2 separate regions of the Homo sapiens genome follow, and region 2 is linked to region 1. The links come from fine-mapping of genetic effects on gene expression. A gene starts in region 1. The other region holds a variant in brackets. All regions are shown on one strand. Distances are from middle to middle. Region 1 holds the start of DPH7 (diphthamide biosynthesis 7). Region 2 overlaps EHMT1 (euchromatic histone lysine methyltransferase 1).

The links. PIP is the estimated chance that this variant, and not a neighbour inherited with it, causes the effect.
Region 2: its variant is fine-mapped to the expression of DPH7 in whole blood (TOPMed, PIP 0.98).

The regions. Positions count from the first base shown.
Region 1 is chr9:137,574,044-137,582,526 of GRCh38, reverse strand. It overlaps DPH7 (diphthamide biosynthesis 7), which reads left to right and starts at 3,602. Exons shown (of 9, transcript NM_138778.5): 1 at 3,602-3,902; 2 at 4,924-5,057; 3 at 6,360-6,447; 4 at 7,684-7,775; 5 at 8,147-8,319. The coding sequence starts at 3,750. It overlaps ZMYND19 (zinc finger MYND-type containing 19), which reads left to right. Exons shown (of 6, transcript NM_138462.3): 6 at 1-446. RefSeq lists enhancers at 3,197-3,256, 2,351-3,322, 6,057-6,866, 6,796-7,090 and a silencer at 3,507-3,916.
Region 2 is chr9:137,829,744-137,838,184 of GRCh38, reverse strand. It overlaps EHMT1 (euchromatic histone lysine methyltransferase 1), which reads right to left. Exons shown (of 27, transcript NM_024757.5): 26 at 3,661-3,836; 27 at 2,058-3,412. The coding sequence ends at 3,232. Among named protein-coding and RNA genes, the nearest start is that of MIR602, 4.5 kb to the left of the region's middle. The variant T/A (reference allele first, on the strand shown) is at 4,515.

The DNA of each region.
Region 1 (8,483 bases):
ACATACTCACAGCCCCCGGGCTCTACCCTGGGCACAGCAGAGACAGACTGGTGGTTGAACCTGGAGGTGCCAAAAAAGCCAGCTGCGGGCCCAGGACAGCTGCCGTGAGACTCCCGATGTCACAGGCAGTCTGTGTGGTTACAGCGCCCCTCAGTGTTCATCTCCAGCAGAGACAACGGAGGAGGCTCCCACCAGGACGGTTCTCATTATTTATATGTTAATATGTTTGTAAACTCATGTACAGTTTTTTTTGGGGGGGAGGCAATGGGAAGGGTAGAAATTACAAATAGAATCATTTGCTGTAATCCTTAAATGGCAAACGGTCAGGCCACGTGACTAAAAACTGTCCTGTTGTCGAAGCTTCTCCCCTGGGCCGCCGGGAGCCCCGTGGAGCGCGGCCTGCACGGGAGTTGTGTCCACAAAGGCAAAGTAAAGGGGTGGAATCATCTGGCCTCTCGGACATTCTCTGCTCCGCCTCCCTCTTGTGCTGCTTAGGGTGAGGTCATTTTGAGTGGAGCCGAGTCCTTGTGGGTGAGGCAGGAGGACCCTTGTTCCTGGTGGGCCCTTCTGAGGAGCGGGTGAGCTCAGACCTTCCTGAGTCCAGCAGGGAGTATGAGTGAGACTCTGTCCTTGTCTTGCGGCAGGAGTGGTGGGGTTGCTAAGTCAGCTGCCCGCTGTTTTATGGGGAGTAGGATGCTCTCGCCCCTGACATTGGTTAGTTCTTGCCTGATTTATGCATGAAGTGGCTGGGAGCTCAGCAGTGAGCTTCTGCCCAGAAGAATCCACAGGGCATGTTCAGCAGGCCTGCTGCAGATGGTGGAGGGGGCTGGCCAGCCAGGGTGAGGTGAGGGTCTCACTTCTCCGTCCGTCTGCAGGGCTGTGGTTTCCAGGATAGCCCTCCCTCTCCTTGGGGAGCCCCAGGTGTCTGGGGCTGGTCAGCATCTTGTACCCATAGAGCTGCCCCAGGGAAACATGCCAGGCTGTGTGGCTGGGATCCTGCCTGTCTCCAGGTGCGCCCAGCCAGAGGCCTTGCTTCTTGGGAGCTGGAAGCCTGGCCAGTCCGACTCTGACCTGTCTGGTCTGGTCCGGTCCGACCCTGTGTTGGTCCCACAGGTTGCTGCTACACTTTCCCTTCTTGAAGCTCCACTGCCATGTTCCAGGACACCCTGTGTGTTCTCATTGCTGCCCCTGGCTGGGCTGGCTTTTGTCTGTAAGCAAAACTTCCAGTACCTTTTCTGGCAGTACCCTGGGGGCTCCTGAAGAACAGGACTGCTGAAAATGGGTGATATCAACAAACTCCGCAGGATTTCCTGGAGCTTAGAGAACTGCATGTGCCCACATCAGGCCCTGAGAAGCCCCCTTAGCTGCTGCAAAGGTTGGGGACATTTTTTGCTGAGTAGGTGAAAGCTGCCAGGGAGGGGGACATATGTGTCCCTAGAGATGGCGGGTCAGCAGGTTGGGGTTTGGGGCAGTCTTCAGGCCTGGAGCCCCGAGTGCCCTCAGGCAGCCTGCTTTCAGATAGAGTCTGAGGATGAGCACGGAGTGCAGGGGTCCCCTTTACCTGCATCCAGGGGTGTGGCCATGTTGCCCCTGACCAGCAGGGCTGCTTTGTTTGGCAGTCATTCATCAGAAAAGTGCACTGAAAGAAGCGCCCAGGGCCTCCCACCTGTGAGACACCACGCTGGGGAAGGGGGCGGTGCAGGTTCTAGGTTTGCATGTGGCAGCTCCTCCAGGCCTCACCCCAGCAGGTGGCACCGTGAGGGTGGGACGGGCCCCACCACTGCTTCCCTCTCACCTGATACCCAATCCTCTGGTCATCTTTCCCGTTCCGTGGCCCCGACTTCTTGGTCTTCGTAGCCAGGTATCTAAGACGTCCTGTGAGGACATCCAGATGGCTGCAATGTGGGGCTGCTTCTAAAGCTTGTTTGGAGTGTGGTGTGTTGGGATGCGCACCTGGTCACTCTCCCTCCCCCGCAGAGGTGTGTGGTTGAGGCCCTTTTGGAATGCCCTGCTGCCTTCCTGGCCAGCCTTTTCTGCGCCTCTGTCTCTGTGGTGGTCTGAGCTGTTGGCTCTCTGCCATGTCTTTAGCCACAGCCCTGCTTGAAGCCCTGAGGCTGAATACCCAGGCACCCGTATATTTCAGTCAAGTCCGCCTTAGCTTCCTGGAGCTGCCGCAACAAAGCAGCGCGAGCTGTGCAGCCTGAAGCAGCGGGAATTCACAGTCTAGGCTCTGGAGGCCGGAGTCTCAGATGAAGGCGCAGGCAAGGGCCCTCAGGTGCGGACGCCTCCTCCCTGCCAGGTGCCTTGCCTGCCTCCCTGTGCTCTGCACAGCAATGGCCCTGCAAGTCTTCTGCATCAGCTTTCTCTTCTGCGGACTCCTGCTCCTCTGGGTCAGGGCCCACGCCTGCTGCTTCTGAGAGCCCCTGTTTGTTAAGGATGCTCTCTGAGGTGCTGGGGTCTTCAGTCCATTGTTTTTTGGGGGGCACAGTTCAACCTGTAACGGCCCAAGGGGTTCTTCCTGCCCGCTGCACACATTCAGACCGTGGATTGCAATAAAGAAAAAAAGTTTAGGGCCGGGCGCAGTGGCTCACACCTGTAACCCCAGCACTTTGGGAGGCCGAGGCGGGTGGATCACGAGGTCAGAAGATCGAGACCATCCTGGCTAACACGGTGAAACCCCGTCTCTACTAAAAATACAAAAAATTAGCTGGGCGTGGTGATGCGCGCCTGTAGTCCCAGCTACTGGGGAGGCTGAGGCAGGAGAATGGCTTAAACCCGGGAGGCGGAGCTTGCAGTGAACTGAGATCGCGCCACTGCACTCCAGCCTGGGTGACAGAGCAAGACTCCGTCTCAAAAAAAAAAAACAAAAAAATTAATAGACACGGGCCGGCCAGGCCACATGTGAGATGGAGTTCGTCCTCAGATCATCTTGTCCAAAGCTCCTAGGTTAGGGGTTTTTTCAAAGGCAGTTTTGGGGGAGGGGGGCGGCGGCCAGGCGACTGGTGCTGATAATCATAGGGGTCGGAGCCGTCCACCTGCTGAGCCGCTTCTGGGGGGTCCTGATGCAGCCACGGGTGTCAGACAAGCAAAGACCCTGGAAGGCGGTCTCTGAGGGGCAGCTCCGCCATGGCGGGTTCACAGGAGGCAGGCAGAGCGCGCCTGCGGCCTCGGGGTGCTGGGCTTAGTGGGGCGCGGGCTCCTCATCAGCTTTACGAAGGCGTTGATTCCGGGGCAAGGCCTGTCATGGAAACTGCAGCCTAAATGTTAAGTCAGCGCGGCCCGATGGCCAGGAGTAACCGGGAGGGCGCCACGGGGTGCGCTACCGCAGCTCGCTGTTGGGGTTTTTCTCAGTGATAGAAATTTTGCAGAGGCGGCTTCAAACCTACGGCTCTGTCACTAACTTGCCGTCTCCAAACCTGCTTTGTGGAGGAGCGGATTTCCCGAAGCCTTCGGTCTCTACGGCCCCGCAGGGAGCAGCGCGTCTGACGCCTGAAGCCCGCCGCGGTCAGCCGGCCGACAGGGGGCGTGGGAGCCTGGCTTCCCAGGGGCGTCCACGGAGGCCAAGGCCCTGCCGGATGTCCCGCCCCGGCACCCCGGAAGGAGTCGCGAGAGAGGCGGCCCGCGCTGACGGTGTCCCTGGGGCTCTGCGCTCGTCCGGCCGGCCCCGGCCTCGCCGCCCCGCGCAGTACCCAGCCCGGCCCCGCCGACCCGCCTCTACTGCCGGCTCCGCGCCCTTCCCCGAGGGCTGGATGATGGGCTGTTTCGCCCTGCAAACGGTGGACACCGAGCTGACCGCGGACTCGGTGGAGTGGTGCCCGCTGCAAGGCTGCAGGCACCTGCTGGCGTGCGGGACCTACCAGCTGCGGCGGCCGGAGGACCGGCCTGCCGGCCCCCAGAACAAGGTGCGCGCGCCGCGGCTTCGGGAGGGGAGGGCGGGGCCGGCCACGAGGTTGAGGCCGAAAGGCGCACCGAATCGCCCAGGAGATGAAGAGGGGATATTGGCCCTTTGGCCAGGAGGTAGGCTGGAAACAGTTTAGAATCTTTTTAAAAAAATTGTTCTCGGCCGGGCGCAGTGGCTCACGCCTGTAATCCCAGCACTTTGGGAGGCCGAGGCGGACGGATCACGAGGTCAGGAGATCGAGACCATCCTGGCTAACATGGTGAAACCCCGTCTCTACTAAAAAAATACAAAACAATTAGCCGGGCGTGGTGGCGGCGCCTGTAGTCCCAGCCACTCGGGAGGCTGAGGCAGGAGAATGGCGTGAACCCGGGAGGCAGAGCTTGCAGTGAGCCGAGATCGCACCACTGCATTCCAGCCTGGGCGATACAGCAAGACTACATCTCAAAAAAAAGAAATTACTTTTTTCTGAGACAAGGTCTTGCACTGTCACCCAGGCTGGAGTGCAGCCTCGGACTCCAGGGCTCAGGGCATCCTCCCGCCTCAACCCCCTGAGTAGCTGGCACCACAGGCACGAGCCACCGCCCCCGGCCAACTTTAAAATCTTGAGAGCAGAACGTCTTCTATATACAGGTGTGGCCCAAGGGAATGGGTGGAATGTACAGTAAAGAGAAAGTGGGAATTATATCTTAACTTCTGGTGGGTACATATTAGGATCCAAATTGGGCACTGGAACAACAGGCGTAAGTCAGGACTGTCCCAGGCAAACTGGGTTCTGTGGTTACCCTAGCCATAGCTGGTCCCTGTTGGCCGGTTTAGAAGGAGCCTTCTCTACTGGGTCCAGGAGTGTTCACCTACTCATTAATAGACGTTTCTCCAGCTCAGAAAACCAGAGGTTCTCCTTCCAGGCAGAATTCCACTCCTTTAGTCATGGCAAACCTTTGAGTTCCTTGGATCCCTTTTCCCATCCTTTGGGTTCCTTCGTGTCTTGGGATAATCAGAGACTACCTCTGCATTTTTTGTAGGGTGGAATGGAAGTTAAGGAGCCTCAGGTCCGTTTAGGCCGTCTCTTCCTGTACAGTTTCAATGACAACAACTCTATTCACCCTCTGGTCGAGGTCCAAAGAAAAGATACTTCTGCAATCCTGGACATGAAATGGTATAACTGTGATAATCCCACTGGGTGTAGAATTTGTCATGAGTAGCAATCAGGGAAGCCTGATGCCTGATGCCTTCAACAAGACAGGCATTGCATCTCAACTTTGGATTTGTTTCTTTGCTGTCCCGCCTATCTTCCACCTGGGGAGTGCTTTACCTGGGGCTTATTTCCTTTGTCATGTTCCAGCCGGGGAAGTGATGGGAGTTTTCTGACTTCATAACCTGGGGCGTCTTTTGTTTGAGAACACAGTTGTAGGCTCTAGCCCACTTTTGGAGCTGAGATTTAAATGCAGTGGTGTGTGGCATAATTATGTTTTGGTCAACAATGGAGCACGTATACCATGGTGGTGCCTTAACGTAATGGAGATGCCCTATACAGGTGTACCAGTTTTTATCCTTTTTAATTTTTTTTTTTTTGAGGCAGGGTTTTGTTCCGTTGCCCAGGCTGGAATGCAGTCACGTGATCATAGCTCACTGCAGCCTTGAACTCCTGGGCTCAAGCAATTCTCTGTCTCAGCCTCTCGAGTAGCTGAGACTTCAGACTTCAGGTAGATGCCACCATGCCTCTTTTTTTTTTTTTTGAGACGGAGTCTCGCTCTGTCGCCCGGGCTAGAGTGCAGTGGCGCGGTCTCGGCTCACTGCAAGCTCCGCCTCCTGAGTTCACGCCATTCTCCTGCGTCAGCCTCCCTAAGAGCTCGGTCTACAGGCGCCCGCCACCACACCCGGCTTATTTTTTTGTATTTTTAGTAGAGACGTGGTTTCACCATGTTATTAGGATGGTCTTGATCTCCTGACCTCGTGATCCACCCGCCTCAGCCTCCCAACGTGCTGGGATTACAGGCGTGAGCCACGACGCCTGGCCTTACCACACCTCATTTTTGTTTGTTTGTTAGTTTGTAGAAACAGGGTCTTGCTATGTTGCTCAGGCTGGTTTCGAACTCCTTACCTCAAGTCATCCTCCTACCTCAGCTTCCCAAAGTGTTGGGGTTACAAGTGTGAGCCACCATGCCCGGCCACCTGTTTTTTATCCTTTATATTGTATTCTTACTGTATCTTTTCTATGTTTAGATATACAACCACTTCCTGTTGTGTCACACTTGCCTGCAGTAACATGCTGTAAGGTTTGTGGCATAGGAGCAGTGGGCCATACCATATAATCAAGGTGTGTAGTAGGATGTCCCAGCTGGGTTTGCGTGGACTGCAGCCCCGTTGTTAAGGGAAGCGTGACTGTGGTTACCGGGACGCACAGTGCACGCCTGTGCTCCGGGCACATTGGTGTGCTTATGGTGGGCCCTCTCCTCAGGTGTCACATCCCGGTGGCTGGACATGCCCTCTTGGGCTTGGCAGATGCCAGTGGATCCATACAACTGCTCCGCCTGGTGGAATCTGAGGTCAGTGACTTGCACTTGTTCTGTGGGGCAGAAGGGACCTGAATAGAGAGGGTTGGGGAGGAGGCTGTGCTGATACAGACATTTTTCTAAAACGATCTCTCTTCAATGGTGAGCTATATATAAACGTTCTAAGATAATGTGGAGTCTATTTTTAAGTTGTATTGCGTTCTACATCCAACTCCAAGAGGAAGTCACCTCATGTGTCACCAGCAGAAGGGCTGAAGTGACAGGATGTTCATTGACCTGTCAGTGGATCTGAAAGTTCTCTAAGGAGAGCCTGGGCAAGCATTCTTAGGTTGATGCTGGGGCCCAGAGTAGCAGTGAGCATCCTGTGTGAAGATGGCATTTCTCACTGATTATTGGAAAAGCACGTGAGTCCTGTGTGAATTTTTCCGAGTTTCTCACAGTGCTCTGGAGCCATGCATTAACAAAGTGACTTCATCTGATAGCTGTCGGGGAGGAGAACGGGGATGTCCCGTAGTGGGGTGATGTAAACAGCCTGAAACCACGCCCTCACTCCGATGCAGATGCTGCAGGCGGGGCTGGGCCAACCGAGGGCCTGTGTAGGAAAAGGCCTTGCTTAAGGCAGCTTAGAGCAGTTGCCCTGTCTTAGAAAGGAGGGAAAGAGCAGCCACAGGAAAGCTGTGGGCCCAAGGGAGGAGTGCATGAACCCAGGAAAGGGCTTTGGTACAGCAGCCTGCTGGGAGCAGGGATGGAGTTAAGCACTGGCCAGGCTGTTTAGGAAATGAAATTTATATAGATCTGCATAAAGAGCAACCACGTTCTCATGGCTGCTCGCGGCTTCTGAAGTGGAAACCAGAGGAGTTTCCCCATTGTCTCTGTCTCGGGAGGCGAGTGTTCCAGTGGCCCTGGAGGCCTGGGGTGGGAAACTGTGTGTGCCACTGTGGTCTGGAGCCTGCACAGGCATCTCGACAGCATCTAGGAGCGCAAGGATGGCAAGGGGGTGTGAAAGGGAGGGAGACCATGCCCCAAGATCAAGCCTGTGGGAAAGTTGTCCTGCAAGTGTGAGGAGTGTGAGCTCCAGTGTCCCCAGGTCTTCTCGGGGCCCCTAGCAGGGGTTTCAGTGTTAGGTGGAGGTGTGACTCAGTGACTGATGTACTTCATTCGCATAGGTTGTAAATGAGGGAACGATGACTTCCCTGCAGGAGAGGAAAAGTCTTTTGGGGGTTCTGGGGCGGCTACTTCCCTTTGATGGAGTTTCTTCTTCTCCAGTAGAAGAGCCACGTGCTGGAGCCATTGTCCAGCCTTGCCCTGGAGGAGCAGTGTCTGGCTTTGTCCCTAGATTGGTCCACTGGGAAAACTGGAAGGTAAGGGCCAGGCTTGGTCAGGGGTCCTGAGTCTTTCTCTGAGAACCACTTCCACTTTTCAGGCTAGAGGGCTCCAGCCACCTTCAGCGAGCTGCGACTGTGCTCCTCAGCCCTGACATCATCACTGCCAGTCCTATTATGAAAAAAAGGTCCCCCATTTTAGATACATAGCGATAGTGTTTTTACCTAGAGAAGTCGACACTGGTGTCTTTGACAAGCTTAGCAGTGGTTGTGATCTTAGCCGCCAGTCTCTTAAGGGGCATATCCGCATCCCAGGGCTGTGGAGACCGTCTCTCAGGACTTGTTTGGGAACCAGAAGAGGCTGACGAATAACATTCTGCCGGGCTTCTTCATGGGTTCCCTGTGTCTAGGGCCGGGGACCAGCCCTTGAAGATCATCAGCAGTGACTCCACAGGGCAGCTCCACCTCCTGATGGTGAATGAGACGAGGCCCAGGCTGCAGAAAGTGGCCTCATGGCAGGCACATCAATTCGAGGCCTGGATTGCTGCTTTCAATTACTGGCATCCAGAAATTGTGTATTCAGGTCAGTATTCCTCCACCGGTCACCTCTGATGGAAGGCTTGCTGAGGAAGGGGCGGAGGGAGAGAGGGAGGCCTGTGCCACAGCTGTGATTCCAGTTATGTTGGGATCTTGAAGACCTTTTATGGAAAGTGTACTTTTTTTTTTGAAACTGAGTCTTGCTCTTTT
Region 2 (8,441 bases), 260 kb before region 1:
CCCCCTCGGAACGCACTGACCCAGGAAGGCCCCAGCTCACACTCCCAGGACTGACGGAGCCTGGCCGGAGGCTGAGCCCTGTTCCCTGCCCTGGGGGAACTACGTTCCCGAGTCACCATGGGTCAGGGGAGGAGCTAAAAAAGGGGCCCTGGGTCCCTCAAGCCTGCATGTGGGGGGCGGGGGTGCCAGGAGCCAGCAAGCACAAGGACCCACTGTGTGTGGGCACTGCTGCCATCTCCTTGGCCTTCCCGGCTGGGGCCCCCTGGGCTCCACAGTGTCACACCCAAGTCCACTCACTGAGTGCCTCAGCAGGCCGACCCCCACCCAGTGAGCTCAGAGGGGCCTCCCCTCCAGCCCCACAAGCCTGTTTTCTCTCACAGACTACAGCCTGGGCCAGGACAAGGGTGCAGGCTGCTCTCTGCCCAAGTGGGCTAAGAACCTGCTAGGAGCTTTGCCCACGTGAGGGGTTCTGGCTGCTGCAGGACCAGAGGGCCAACCTGCATGGGTTTTCCATTTTTATTTATCCAAAGAGGAGAAAGAGGGAGGGGAGGGGGAGGGGGAGGGGGAGGCCTCCTGCCCTGCCCCGGCCCACCTGGTCCCTGTGAGACTCACCTGCCTGTTCCCCGCACCTGCCGCAGGTCCCCTCAGCCCCCTTCCCAGGCCTGCACTCCCCGGAGCACGTGCAGCTGCTGCCCCACAGCGCAAAGGCCCTGTAAGGTCTCTTCCTCCCAAGCCGAGTCTGGTTTAGGGACAAGGCGGTCACGGCAGAGCTGTCCAGGACCATGTGAGGTGGGCTCTGTGTTGGGTGCTCATTTTAAACGGCTGGAACTTTCTGTGACAGGGCCCAGTTGTGGGGCCACCCTGGTGGGCCTTCGTGACACCCAAAAAGTTTGCTGTTGGCTTAATTCAACCAATACCTGTTTGTACACCCAGCAGCTGACCCAGGGCACGGAGCAGAACAGGTGGACACTCAAGCCACAAAAATTAATTAGAGTCATCTGCCAGCTACGGGCTGTCCCAGGGGAAGGGGTTGTACCAGCTGCTCCTCTGGCAGGGCTGCTCCCCCTGCAGGGCTGGTGGAGCCGGCAGAGCCTGAGGTTCAAGCTCCAGTGGGCCCTCAGTCACCTCCTGCCACTGCCTCTGGGATGAGGTGACCTGCGACCCCTACACCCTCCTGAGCCCGGGCTTGGCGGGAACCCAGCCCACCCCACACAGCCCCTCCTCACGGACGCAGACGTGAAAGGCCGTAGGCTGTCTGGGCTCCTGGAGGAATGCGGCCTCCCCTGTGGCCCTGTGCAGAGGGGTCACAGGTGGGCCATATCCATCCTGGGTCCGCCTGCCCAGTCCTTCATGCAGTTGCGCAATGTCTGGTGACAGGCACTCGTACCTCAGGCTGGACGACCGCGCACCCTGCTGGGGCCGTCTATTCACAAAGTGCAGGGCAGTTATGACTGTGCTGGAAAAGCATCAAAAACACCTGCGTGAATTCTGTGTATTAAACCGTGGAGTGTCTGAGCGTGTTACTGAGGTTACACGAAAAGCCCTCCTGTGGTGAGTGAGGCCAGTCAGCATGGAGAACATAGCAGGCTGGAGGCTTTGGGTCTAGGGGTCCCCGTAGAGGAGTGGGGGTCATGGCTGGCAGGAAGTAGGACGGGCTCTGGCTCTCCCTTGTCCGGCCTCGCTGTTCAAGTGCAGCTCTGCCTCTGGTTGTGGGACTCACCTGATGTGCCCTGTCGGCTTCCAGAATGACGCCCAGAGCTGGGCACCTGGCGCTAGACACAGACATGCAAACACACACACACACACACACACACCAGTGTGCCCGCATTCGCACCACGTGCACGATGCATTCGTGGACACACACAGACTCATTCGACACGTGCGCAAATGCACAGGCTCCCCTAACCTCTGCCTGGAACGTCCCCTCTTCGGGGACAGATCTGGGGTGAAAAGGAAGCTGTACTTCCTTGGACAGGGGACAGAGAGCTGGGCCGGGTCCAGGGGGACCTGCAAGTTCTGCAGAGACCCTGAAATATGGTGTCATAATAAAAACCCCATTTAAAGTACTTCTTTTTTTTTATTGATTTCATTGGAAACAGAACAAGAAATGGTCAGAGCCAAAAGACTGCTCTTAAAACTGTCAAAAACATTTTAACAGAAAAAAATAAACATGACTGCATTATGAATGTTTTTAGAAGAGTTGCACAAAAAAAACCCCACTGTTACTGCACTAATTACAGTCTTTAAAAAGGTATATGCCAAAAAAAAGTATATGACCTGCCAGGCCACCACACAAAAGGTGATGGCAAATTTATTCACGCTACAAGACTAACATCTTTAAAAAAGTTTTTCCTGCATTTTATTCTAAAATCACTTTGTTCTCTTTATACAGTTGATAGTTTATTTCACGTGGTGAGTAGAAACCACACCAGAATCAGCACCGTTGTCTGTGTTTTGTTTTTTATTTTGTGTTTGTCCTAATGTTCAGTAATGGTAGAAAATAAATCAGTTTATTCATCATAGCATGTGGCTTAAAAAATCAACAGAAGGTGCCAGCGTCAACGGAACCGGCGGGGGCTGCACCCACCAAGCCACTTCCTCGAAAAGAAACGTCAGTTAGAGGTTTGATATATAGGACTAGATATAGGATTCCTTTAAAAAGCAAACCCACATTTTCTCCAAAGTTAGTGGTGGGGTCGGTCTCCTGACCTCTCCGAGCCTGACAGGAGACTGTGCCCTCCGTGCGGCCCCTGGGACTCGGCCCCAGCCACGCAGGCCGTGGGCAGGGCGAACGGAGCAGCTCGCGCTAACGGTGGCTTCGGCGGCGCCACACAGAAGAGTCTGGGCCGGACAGGAGAACAGAGCAACCCCGTGGTGCAGCGGGGACCTCGGAGGTCAGAGGAAGAAACGAGAAACTTCGCAACGACAAATCAGCATCAGAAACTCAGAAGGTGATGCCAGTGCGGACTCCCAGCGTCTCTGGCGCGCGGACCAAAGTGTGCGCTCCAGCCTGGGCACTGGGCCCGCGGTGAGGCCGCAGGTCTGGGAAGGTGGCTGGGAGGCATCCACACCCGCCCGCAGGGGCTGCAGCCTCACCTCCGACCCCTCCAGGAAGCCGGCGGCGCAGCCCCGAAGGACCCTTTCGGTTGCGTGCGGAATCTCTCCTCCTCGTCCTCTAATCGGCGACGCGGCGGTCCCTGGCTCCCGAGCGCCCCGCTGGCCGGCGGCGTCTCATAGGGGGTCGGCGGCAGCCGCGGAGCTGGTGTCGGGCAAGCCGTCCTCCTGGGCCTCCTGGGCCGCGCTGGCCTGACGCTGGGCCAGGGCCGCGCTCGAGTGCCGGCACTTGGGGGAGCCGCAGCGGCAGCTGAAGAGCTTGCCTTTGATGTCCCAGAAGCGCTCTCCATAGTCAAACCTGGGGAGGGAACAGAACCAAGGCTCCAAGTCGAATCCCACCGGCACCTCCCACAAGCCAGATAAATTAAGGCAAGGCCAAAGCTTCCTCACCCCGATCTGCCGTGCCGCATCCCAGGTCGCAGTTTTTAGAACTACAGGAAAACCACTAGCATAAACCCGAGACAAGCCCAGGAAAGCAATGCGAGCCCCGTTCCTAAAACCGTCCCGCCGGCAGCGGAGATGGCCAGGGGCCGGGGCGGTGCGTACCCGAGCTGCTCGCCGGCCTCGATCAGGCGGGTGCTGAAGAAGGCGATCCGGGGGAACCGCAGGTCCTGGTGGGCCATGAACACGCGCACGGGCACCAGGTTGGGCTCGCAGTGGTGGTTGATGAACCGGCTGACGTTCCCGTAGAACCGCGCGTCGATGCAGTAAACCTCCCCGTCCTGCAGGGCGAGAAGCCGGCACGGGCTGCAGTTAGCAAGGCCCCGACACGCCGGCCTCGCCGGGTACGGCCATGCATGGCAGTCCCGGAGCCTGCAGTTGGGCGCAGGCCCGCCATGCAGGAGGGGCCTTCTCCAGTGACCTGTGGCGGCGGTGCGGAGCCTCCGCCAGCCTTCTCCTCGCTGTGTGGCCACCCACCCCGCACCCTGCCGTCCTCGCTGGGCCTCCGTCTGTGGTGGGGTGGGGGTGGTGCGGGCCGTTCCCTTGACGGCGTCCCCATGGGGCTTCCAGCGCGGTGGAATGTGGACAGCGCCATCCCACCCGAGGACCCATGGGGCTGTCTGGCACCAATAGGAGAAAGGAGGCCGGGGCTGCAAGAGCCCCGTGAGGCAGTGGCAGGGGCTGAGGGGGTCGGGAGGGATGGAGCTGGCATCCGGGACACACTGTCTTGGTGACGAGGAGGCGGAGCAGTCCCCAGAGGGTCTGGGAAGACTCAGTGGCGAATGGCACCAGGGAGGACCGTCAGGCGGAGGCTGCCCACAGAAAACGACTTCTGCTGCAGCCCTTCCGGGTGCTGATGTGACTGTGGAACACGAGGCCGAAGAGACTGAGGCGTCCTCCTCACCCTGGTGCCTTGGAGAGGAGCCCAGGATTCCGGGTGGCCACATGGCCCTGGGCCC[T/A]GGCCCCTGGCACTGGCCTGTGATGATGGATTCTGAATTGACCATAGAGAGGGGGACGAGGTGGGTGGGCCTGACCTAACCACGCAACCCCTTTAAAAGCAATTCTCTCTGGAGACCCAGGGCTTGGAGCTGCTGGGGCCTGGATGGAGGAGCTGCGTGGGAGTAAGGTAGGTGGTCCCGGCCGGCAGCTAGCAAGGAACCTAGACGCTGCCCACGCAACCACAGGGACCTGGGCTCAGCAGCACCCTGCCTGTGCAGCCCGAGGCCCGGCACGCCCAACCCCTGCTGCGCACACTGGGCCGAGTGGGTGGCCGCCATGGCGAGCTGCGGGTGGGTGGCGTGGTTTGTTACCCAGCGACGGGAAGAGGCAACACCACAGACGACAGCCAGGCAGACGGGGAAGGAGGCACCTGGGGCTTTCCAGGACCGAGTTCCGAGAGGGCGGGGCCTGCCGGCAGAGACACCTGGTCCACAACCTGCCCCAGCATGAACATTAACCAGAGAGCCAGGGACGCTCAGAGGTCAAGAGGTTAAAACCCAAACCAACAAGCGGGTAAAGGCGTGGACGAGAGCAGCTCTCCGTCAACCTTCACGGCGCGGGCAGTGACAAGACAGTAAACCAGGCGAGCACGGCCGCAGGACAGGACCAGCCACAGCCCCCAAAGCCAAAGGCGCGGGAAGCTGCCTCCTGGTTTACCCCAAAGAAACAGAGTTCAGAGTGGCTCACCTGGCGTGGACTTTGGCCTCTGCTTCGGGGTCTGATGGACTAAGAATCTATAGGCGACCCCTCCTCGTGCAGAATGCAATTCCGGAACTAGCAACGGCGCACACACGAAGGTCTTGATAAGCAGCAAAATGGAGAGTGAGGGGCTTCCGACTGGAGGGGCCAGGCCCAGCTTTCACCAGGGGCAGCTCGTCTGGCAGAGCACACAGCGCTGCTCCGAGCTTCTAAGATGGGTGGGGTGTCAAAGTCTGTGACACAAATCTCTGCCCGACCAGAACCAGATAAAGACAACAGTCCAGAGAAGGACGGCTGGAGTAAGGCAGATAGGCAACGTGGGAGGCGGGGCCTGCGGAGAGAGCCCAGCCAATCCTAGGACTGGAGAGAAGGCACAGGGGCCACATGGGTGGGTGGGGGGAGGGCCTGCGGAGGGAGCCCAGCCAATCCTAGGACTGGAGCGAGGTGCAGAGGCCGCGTGGGAGGCGGGGCCTGAGGGAGACCAGCCAATCCTAGGATGGGAGCAAAGTGCAGTGGCCACGTGGGAGGCGGGGCCTGTGGAGGGAGCCCAGCCAATTCTAGGACGGGAGCGAGGTGCAGAGGCCACGTGGAAGGCGGGGCCTGTGGAGGGAGCCCAGCCAATTCTAGGACGGGAGCGAGGTGCAGAGGCCACGTGGGAAGCGGGGCCTGAGGAGGGAGCCCAGCCAATCCTAGGACTGGAATGAAGGCACACAGGCCATGTAGGAGGTGGGGCCTGTGGAGGGAGCCTGGCCAATCCTAGGACTGGAGGGAAGGCACAGGGGCCACGTGGGGTTGGGGGGTTCTGCGGAGGGAGCCCAGCCAATCCTAGGACTGGGGCGAAGTGCAGCGGCCACGTAGGAGGCGGAGCCTGTGGAGGGAGCCCAGCCAATCCTAGGACTGGGGCGAAGTGCAGCGGCCACGTAGGAGGCGGAGCCTGTGGAGGGAGCCCAGCCAATCCTAGGACTGGGGCGAAGTGCAGCAGCCACGTAGGAGGCGGAGCCTGTGGAGGGAGCCCAGCCAATCCTAGGACTGAGGCGAAAGCACAGGGACCACTAGAGAGGCCGGGCCTGCAGAAGGGGCCCAGCCAATCGCACTAGGGAAACAAGGCCCACGCAGAAGAGAAACCAGAGTCCTCCCCACATGTTAACAGGAACAACTCAAGGGACCTGACGCTTGAAACACTGAGGAAACGAACACGTCCGAAAGAACACTCAACTGAGTCCAGCCTTGAGATGAACCAGACACTGGGCCAACAGACACGTATTTTCAAGGCAGCTCCTAAGGCTGTCCTCAATGAAGAACAAAGAAAGATTTCAAGGCATGAAAATATCAGAGAAATGAGAAGTCTCAGCGGAGAAACAGAAAAAGAATCCAACGGAAATTCTACATCGAAATTCACTGGCTGCTGAAGCCATCACTGGGTGGATGAACAGAATCTCAGAGATTTGCCTAATGACAGGTAAAGTCAAACAAATTGACTTGTACGCAACATTATTTGAGATAAATAGCAAGGGCTGAAATCAACCTGAATGCCCCAAAAAGAAGGAGAAAGATTTCCATGTACGGACAATATGATGACTCTCCCCAAATCCTGTCGGGAGAAAGGTAAGGGCTCGTGCACTATCTACACTCTACCACTTTTTGTGTAAGAAAAGAGAAGGAATAAGAAATCTACTTGAGTATTTTTTCTCGATTTCTGCTGATGGTTACTGCAGGTGCTACAGTTGGAATGTGTGTGCCCCCCGACCAGACTCACAGGCTGAGACCCCAAGGTTAGGGTGAGGCTTTGGGAAAGCGATTAGGTCATGGGAGTGGAGGGAATTGTGCCCTCATAAAAGGGACCCCAGAGAACTGCTGCACCCCCTCCACCACGTGGGGACACAGTGAGAAGGCACTGGCTACGAACCAGGAAACCCTCCCCAGACACCAGATCTACTAACACCTTCATCTTGGGACTTCCAGCCCCCAGAGCAGTGAGAAATACATTCCTGTTATTTGTAAGCCTCACGGTTTACAGTGTTTTGCTATCACAGCTCGAATGGACTAAGACAGCAGGAAACAGAATACAGAGAACATGGAGAGAAGCAAGGCTTTTCTGGGTGTGAACTTCCCAAGCATGCAAAAATTTTACACAATCAAAAAACAAAAAATTAAATTGTAACATTTAAAATGAACTAAAATTAATGTAACTGCCTATCAAGCCAGTGACACAATCACACAAGCAACATTTCTGGTGCCGCGAAGCACAAGACTGGGCCCAGCTTCCATGGGACATGTTCTAAGGAGTGAGACGCTGCAAAGAAGCGCAGATGCCATCCGGGAGCTGGACTGGTGCTTACTGTTATCGGTAATATCTGGAGTGCTATTTTGAAACTAAAGATTTTAGAAACCAAAATTTTTATTGTAAGAGATGCAAATATAAAATCAAAGAAGTTGGATAAAAACTCTACACTGTTAAATTTGAATTGGAAATATTAACATGAACACATTTTTAAAAATCTATTTACTTCATAACTCTGTCCTCTGAAAAGTGAGTCAAGAGCCCATGGCACCCTGACAGCAGTGGGCACCCCAGAGTCTCATTTCAGTGTCTAAAAATCTTTCTCTTCCAAAAGCACAAGGACATCCTGGAGAAATGGCTGATTCCAAGTGTGGGGCAAGGAACATAAGGGAGGCCTGGGTGTCACATGGTACCGAAGAGCAGTGTCACCAAAGGAGACGGGCTCGCCTGCATGGGCTCCCCATGGCCAAAGATGGGGCAGTTTGACCATTAAATAAGAATGGCTATAACTGATCAAACACACATGTAAAAATGTAAACAAAAAAAAAAAGTAAAAATCCATGAGCCCACATTAACACTCAAAACAGAGGAAAGAAAAAAAAGACCAAAATTTCTTTGCTGCTACTTCCTCCCTCTGAAACTTGATAACTAAATGGTAAGAATAAAGCATTGATCTTGCCTTTCTCTGAGGAGTAACCACAAAGCCCAGGTTTAAGGTTTATTTATTTAAACAGAAGAATGTCTGTTAATAAACAGGGAAGGCATGGATGCTCGGGGTGGCCAGTCGAGGTGGCCATAAAGCTCCCTATGGGACACAGCAGCCCCGGTGTGAGTGTCGCCAAACCTCAGCCCTTCCTCCCAGCTGGCCGCAAACACGGGATAAGAGAACAAGTGAGGTGACACCACG